Linked DNA regions of Homo sapiens. The protein of the gene in region 1 purifies or fractionates together with the protein of each later gene. This does not show direct contact. Each region holds a gene or a part of one and is shown in the gene's direction. Other genes may lie near its edges. The genes, in order: GADL1 and ANKMY2.

The links.
Region 2: the proteins of GADL1 (region 1) and ANKMY2 purify together in Homo sapiens (affinity purification with mass spectrometry; one large-scale study listed by BioGRID and IntAct). This does not show direct contact.

What each region holds. Positions count from the first base shown.
Region 1 is NC_000003.12:30,728,180-30,730,995, reverse strand, and holds part of GADL1 (acidic amino acid decarboxylase GADL1), read left to right. Parts: intron 1-2,580; coding exon 2,581-2,754; 3' UTR 2,755-2,816. UniProt on the Homo sapiens protein: May catalyze the decarboxylation of L-aspartate, 3-sulfino-L-alanine (cysteine sulfinic acid), and L-cysteate to beta-alanine, hypotaurine and taurine, respectively. Does not exhibit any decarboxylation activity toward glutamate.
Region 2 is NC_000007.14:16,607,441-16,611,274, reverse strand, and holds part of ANKMY2 (ankyrin repeat and MYND domain-containing protein 2), read left to right. Parts: intron 1-511; coding exon 512-726; intron 727-1,509; coding exon 1,510-1,645; intron 1,646-3,834. UniProt on the Homo sapiens protein: May be involved in the trafficking of signaling proteins to the cilia.

The sequences.
Region 1 (2,816 bases):
TAAGTCAAAGCGTGGTTCTCCATTGCCCTGTGGCCAGAGAGATTTTAAAAGCAGTACAATATGGTGGGTCAGAGGTTTAAATTATATGTGAGTGTGTATATTAACATGTGCATATATGCACAGGCACACACACACACACATGCTTATGCACGCAGACCCATTTATATCCACATATGCACGAGAAGCCCTCCTACCTAAGGTGAGGAGGATTAGTCAGGTAAAGCAAATAATTCTAGAAAATAATGTGATACATACATAATGTGAGCATTTTCCCATTTAATATTTGTATCTTTATATTTAAATTTTTAATGTTATATTTGTATATCAGTGTACATTTATGTTACCATCTTTTGATGGAAAGGTTTTTTCCACCTAGTGAAGATTTCCAAATGCTTTTTATAAACAAGTGAAACTTTTCTTAAGTAGAGGTCTGATGATGAGAGGGCCCTCCACTGTTCTTGCATAAACTACATTCTTCAGGAATCATCTGTCTTATGCAGCTCGGGTTTCTTCAGGTGAAGTAAGTACTCAGACACCTGTGTAGCGATCTCCGTGCAGAATCAGTCTGGATTCTCAAAAGCTTTTACAGTTCTCTTGCCTAGTGTGATCACAATGATGTTTAGCCATCCCCCTTTATCTCTTCTTTCCAAAGGACTCAACTTAGTTTTTACAAAAATCACTTTTTTTGGCACTCATCTATCTTTGTTTTACATATTTTTTTACTAGATTTTAGAATTACTACTTGCATACATGGATTTGGAAGAAAACTCAACCAATGCATACAAATTCATGGGTTTGAAGCAGATATGTATAAGCATAGTAGAGAGTTACTTCCTAGCTTCTGGCTTCCAGCATCAACTGGACATTTGCCACTCTTTTCAAGTGAATGCAGGCTGTTGTTTAGTTACATTTTTCTAATCTCTAGAAAGCTCAGAATAAAATGTGTCACATATATTTAGAAGTTTGTAGAACCTGATGGCCCATGCTTTTTTCACTAACTTGACCTCTAACATCACCTTTTCTACATTTTTTCTTTTACACTCATATATTTTCTTTTCATATCTTGTGATAATGTAAGAAACTTCCAGTTTTTTGCTAGAATGGCAATGTGATTTTCCTGAATAGGTGTTTGTTTTGTTATTGCAAGCACTGTGTAGTCCATGTTTTGCAAGACTTATATTCTAAAATTAGTACATGTGGAAAAAAAAGTGTTGAGTTAAAATTAACCTTGAACATCCTTTGAGAAGGCTCTGTGGTTAAGTTCAACACATAATATCTTCAGAGGTCTAAAACACCCAATTTTTTCATCAGCTTTGGAACAGATCAAGATTGTGTTGAGTGTCAGATGAAGTCATTTGACTTGCTGACAAAATGTGGGTATGTTCAAAAACTGGGCTGGTGTGGGATTATCACATTACGAGAGAGGGAGACTCGTGGGAACCCAGATTCATGCCCCTCACCTAAGGAGTTTAAAAGCACACTCTGCCTGGTGTTCTTTCTATATGTACTCCTCCCTTCTGGAGGAGTAAGTCTCATCTTCCTGAGAAGGCAAGGATAGAAACTCATTATATTCCCTTTCCACATATTCACATAGGACACACTCAAAAAGTTTTCAGAGTTAAAATAAAATTCAAGTGGAAAAACTTTGCTTGTATTTCCAAGACAGTAAAAATGCATTCTTAATATTTTAACTCAGTGTATCAAAAATGAACTTCACTATTTTAAAAGTTTACAACCTAGCTCTTTGGTGGCCATACTACTGATTAGAAAATGGACTGATTTTCCCATGTGGTTCTTAAATTAGACTAGTTTCTTCAAACATTAAACTTTTAGAAAAATCTGTGTATCTGGATTATCAGGGCCTGTACTTCTCATGTCAGCTATAGATCTTTAAAATATGTGCTTCCTAATTTTATTACCACATTTACATCTCTTAATAAGAGACAGGGTGTTTATATTTCATATATGAGAATAATATCTAACTTTCTTTTTTTCTAGGATGAAAAATACATGTTCTATTAATAAATTAATAAACTTAGGCTTCAAAATAGAACTGTACATAATATCCATATTTGTTTTTTCTTGGTAGACAACTGGAAGGGTTTCCTTCTTTTCCATCTATGACTAATTTTCTTTATTCAAGATACCTGAACTGGGGTGTTTTTTAGTTAAGACAAATTTGAGAATGAGACTGTAATCCCTGTGGACACCTGATTTGTTTTTAATGAGGCAGCATTGAATAATGATTTACACTTAAGAGTATGGGCTTAGGGAGAAAATGCCTGGGACCTTGAGATACTGATTTACTCGCCATGTACCTGTTTTCTCGACCATAAATGGGCACATTAGTAGCATCTTCCTCACTGTTATTGTGAAGATTAATTAATATGTCTAAAGCACTTGAATCAGTACTCATGAGTCCTCCATAAATTATTATTATTATTAGTGTCAACCTTGTGTGAATGAGAATGGGATCCAAACCAGTGGATGCCCAGTAAATGTCCAATGGCTGGTGAAAATGCTATTGAAATGCCTTGATGTTCTGGTCTTTCACCCCTCTCCCCTTTTCTCCCCACACAGGTGGCCCCAGCCATTAAGGAGAGGATGATGAAGAAGGGAAGCTTGATGCTGGGCTACCAGCCGCACCGGGGAAAGGTCAACTTCTTCCGCCAGGTGGTGATCAGCCCTCAAGTGAGCCGGGAGGACATGGACTTCCTCCTGGATGAGATAGACTTACTGGGTAAAGACATGTAGCTGTGGCTTTGGTCCCCCAGAGGCATAGATCCTATCCTGGGAGAGTTTAGATCCAGAACATC
Region 2 (3,834 bases), on another chromosome or scaffold:
AATTGGAAAGTAAAGCATATTTCATTTTTAGACTTCATTCTGAAAAAATCTCATTTTCTTGTGCTTAATAAGAATTAATGAGAATTGTAGTTCTCCTAGCCATGAAATTCTAGAGCTGAGTAATGTTAACTAAAAGTGGTTATTGCTCAATGATTTGATTCTTTATGTAAAATGTACAAATTTGTCATGTTTATCTTTAGTAAAAGTGAATTTAACAGAGACTGTAAAATCATGTGCTCTTGAATGGCATACTGGCACTGTGGTGTAGGTAGATGGAAGATCACATTATAACTTTGATATACAGAGTTCAAGAGATTCCACTATTTCAGGGTCTTTCTATATTAGTTCTATAAGTTCTGGGTAATTTGCATTCTAACAAATAACATAATAACTTCATGATCCTAAGGAAGGCTTTCTTTGGTAATCTTTTGAAATCAACTAAATGGACTACCTAATTTGTACATGAACAAGTGTCTCCTTTAATACCTGAGTACACTGGGATTTCCTCTAGATCGTGATGCTTGTAAATGAGAATCCTCTGCTGACAGAAGAAGCAGCCCTGAATAAATGCTACAGAGTGATGGATTTGATTTGTGAGAAATGTATGAAGCAAAGAGACATGAATGAAGTATTGGCTATGAAGATGCATTACATAAGCTGTATCTTTCAGAAATGCATTAACTTCTTAAAAGATGGAGAGAATAAACTGGACACCTTGATCAAAAGGTACTCTTTTTACTATGTCGTTTATAAAATACACTCAAGTGAATATTTTTTTTAATATGAAGCCTCATTATTATGTGTTTCAAAATTAAACATTTTGGCAGCAATTGCTGTTGTTGGACTCACATTTAGTCTTTGACAAACAGAGAATAATATTATACTTATATTGAGTGATTATTCAGTTCTGTATCCTTTACTGTGATGTTTTTGTTGTTACCAGCAATTTACAGATGAGGAATCTGAGGTTTGGAGAGGTTAAATAACATGTGTAAGATCACACCGCGAGAAAGTGGCCCAAGTCCAAATTTGAGAATATTTTATGCCCTAGGTCGCAGCCCTAGGTTTGTAATGGCATCCAGGGTGTCTCTGTTACTGTATCTTGGAGAGCTGTGTGTTATGCTGCTTCTCTGACCACCAGAGATCAAATTCTCTTGCATCCTTACCTAGAAAAGGGAACTAAGTCTGAAGGGTGTGGCTCTATGAGAGTTTTCATTCTTAGTACAAATAACTGACATGGTAATAAGTAACTAGCTAATCTGATAACAGTGTTTAGTGTGTTTTATGGTGGTAGTCACCTTTGCATATTCATTTAATGGGCTGGAAAACCTTATAAGGCCTAGCCTAACATATAGGTTGAACAGCAATTTGAACTGAGCCCGTCATCATGATTTGAAGAGACAAAGAAAATCATAAGTAACAGAAGAAACTACTAAAAACTGTTGGGTTCAACTAGGAGAGAATGCTTAGTGATTCAACTCCAATTACGCTTTAAAAAATATCTTTCAGCTTGTTAAAAGGCCGAGCTTCTGATGGCTTTCCAGTGTATCAAGAAAAGATCATTAGAGAAAGTATCAGAAAATTTCCTTACTGTGAAGCTACACTCCTCCAGCAGCTGGTTCGAAGCATTGCTCCTGTTGAAATTGTAAGGCTCCTCTTACCTAAGTTGACTCTATCAGTAAAACCTAATTCCCACCTATTGTATTGTTAAAGGCAAGTTCTCTTTAATATTTATTTTTATTATTTCAGAATATTTTTAGGAACAAAGGTGGAGATAGGTTTGCCTGCCAAACCTGTTCCTGTTTATTTATTTCCCATCTCACGATCCTCTTCTTACCTTATTATGGTTCATAGTTTCATAAACAGGACGTCGCTATGTTGAAATGTAGATGGTTAGGGTAGAAACTTACATTTTAAGTACATCCACTATGTAATATAGGTACACACATGTACACTTGTAGCTATATGAATTATCAGCACAAAGTCATACACTAGATGCAAGTATGAATTGATCACCTAGGGGGATAGTGTCCAGGCAGTGGGGATGTAGTGGGATAAGCCATGGGAAGGCTCATTGTGGTTCCTGGTAACAATCTCAAAGTATGCCTCAGCTTCCTATAATCCACCTTAATGCCTCTGATTAGAAAATGTCCATACTTACAACCTATTTATACTTACCCACTATATAAGTGTATTTTGTTAACTTTATCTGTTATTTAAATGACTTACTATTCATTTGTCATATATTTTAATTTATTTGGCCTTTTCTATTTTGCGACAGAGTCTGTTTCTGTCGCCTAGGCTGGAGTGCAGTGGCACAATCTCAGCTCACTGCAACCTCCATTTCCCAGGTTCAAGCGATTCTCCTGCTTCAGCCTCCTGAGTGGCTGGGACTATAGGTGCGCGCCACCACGCCCAGCTAATTTTTGTATTTTTAGTAGAGATGGGATTTCACCATGTTGACCAGGTTGGTCTCGAACTCCTGACTCAGGTGATCTACCCACCTCGGCTTCCCAAAGTGCTGGGATTACAGGCATGACCCACTGCGCCCAGCCACCTTTTCTATTTTGAATAGGTTTTTGTTTACCCTATCTATACCCATTCATGCTTTTATACGTTTCAATCAAAAACTTGATCAGCTTTTGTCTATCAGGCAAGAAATTGATCCTAAGACCAGTCCCATCCATGGCTTCCTCCCTCCCTCTGGCAAATCTGGTTCCCTTCTCTGTGCCTTCTCTCTGGGTTGTTATGTCATTCTCAGTGTGGAACATCAGGGCTTCAAGTGGGCTCCAGATGCTCCTTTGTACATTAAGAATTCACCTAGTCTGAGCCATAAAATAAACAAGAAAGACCTGAGCAGAAAAGACCATCTCATAAAGCTCATGCATTAATTTGTTCATGTGTGCTCCCCCTATTTTCAAGAGTTTCTTTACTCATACTTTTTAATATAGTTGGCTATTTAGTGTTTATGCTTTTGGAAGAATAAAGTTAGCAAATTATGATTTGTCAATTACAAATGTGTCTTGGCAGCACATATCAAAGCCCAACCAACCATGAATTAAATAGATGAGGGTTTATGTATTCACATATACATAGATGCCCAAAGGTAGGCAGACTAGGTCTGGCATAGTGACTTAAAAATAGTTTGGGGACCCAAACACTTTCTCATCTTTCCCTTCCAATATTCCTTAGCTGTGTAGGTTCTCATATGCATACTTATGATCTCATGGTTACGAGGCATTTGATGTTCCTCCTCCAGCTCACATTCCTATCCCAGGCAGGCAGGAAGAGCAAAGGGGTCTATATCTGGAAAACATAAGCTCTCCCAGAAGCCCTCTGCCTGTGTCACATGACTTTCCTTAGCTACACAGGAGTCCAGGAAAATTTTTTTTTTTGGCTTTTCTAAACACTCCTCCTCTGAACAAAATTACACTTCTGTTACTGAGGAAGCTGGGAGAATTGATATCAGAGAAGCAACTAGCAGTACCTGTTATGTGGGATTTCCAGCACTCACAAATGGTTGCTGACCTTTTACCTTCCTGGGAAAAAACAGAAAAACTAAAACAGCAACCCAGAGTTCTTTAAAAAAAAAAAAAAAAAAAAAAAGCAGGTCAATATTGTGGTCAACAAGTTATCCTAGCTCCATATAATAGAATAATGTAATTAGAGTTTATAGAGTATAATTATTATTATTTTTATTTATTTATTGAGGGGGGTCTTGTTTTGTTACCCAGGCTGGAGTGCAGTGGCGCAATCTCAGCTCATTACAACCTCAGTCTTCCGGGTTCAAGCGATTCTCATGTCTCAGCCTCCCGAGTAGCTGGGACTACAGGC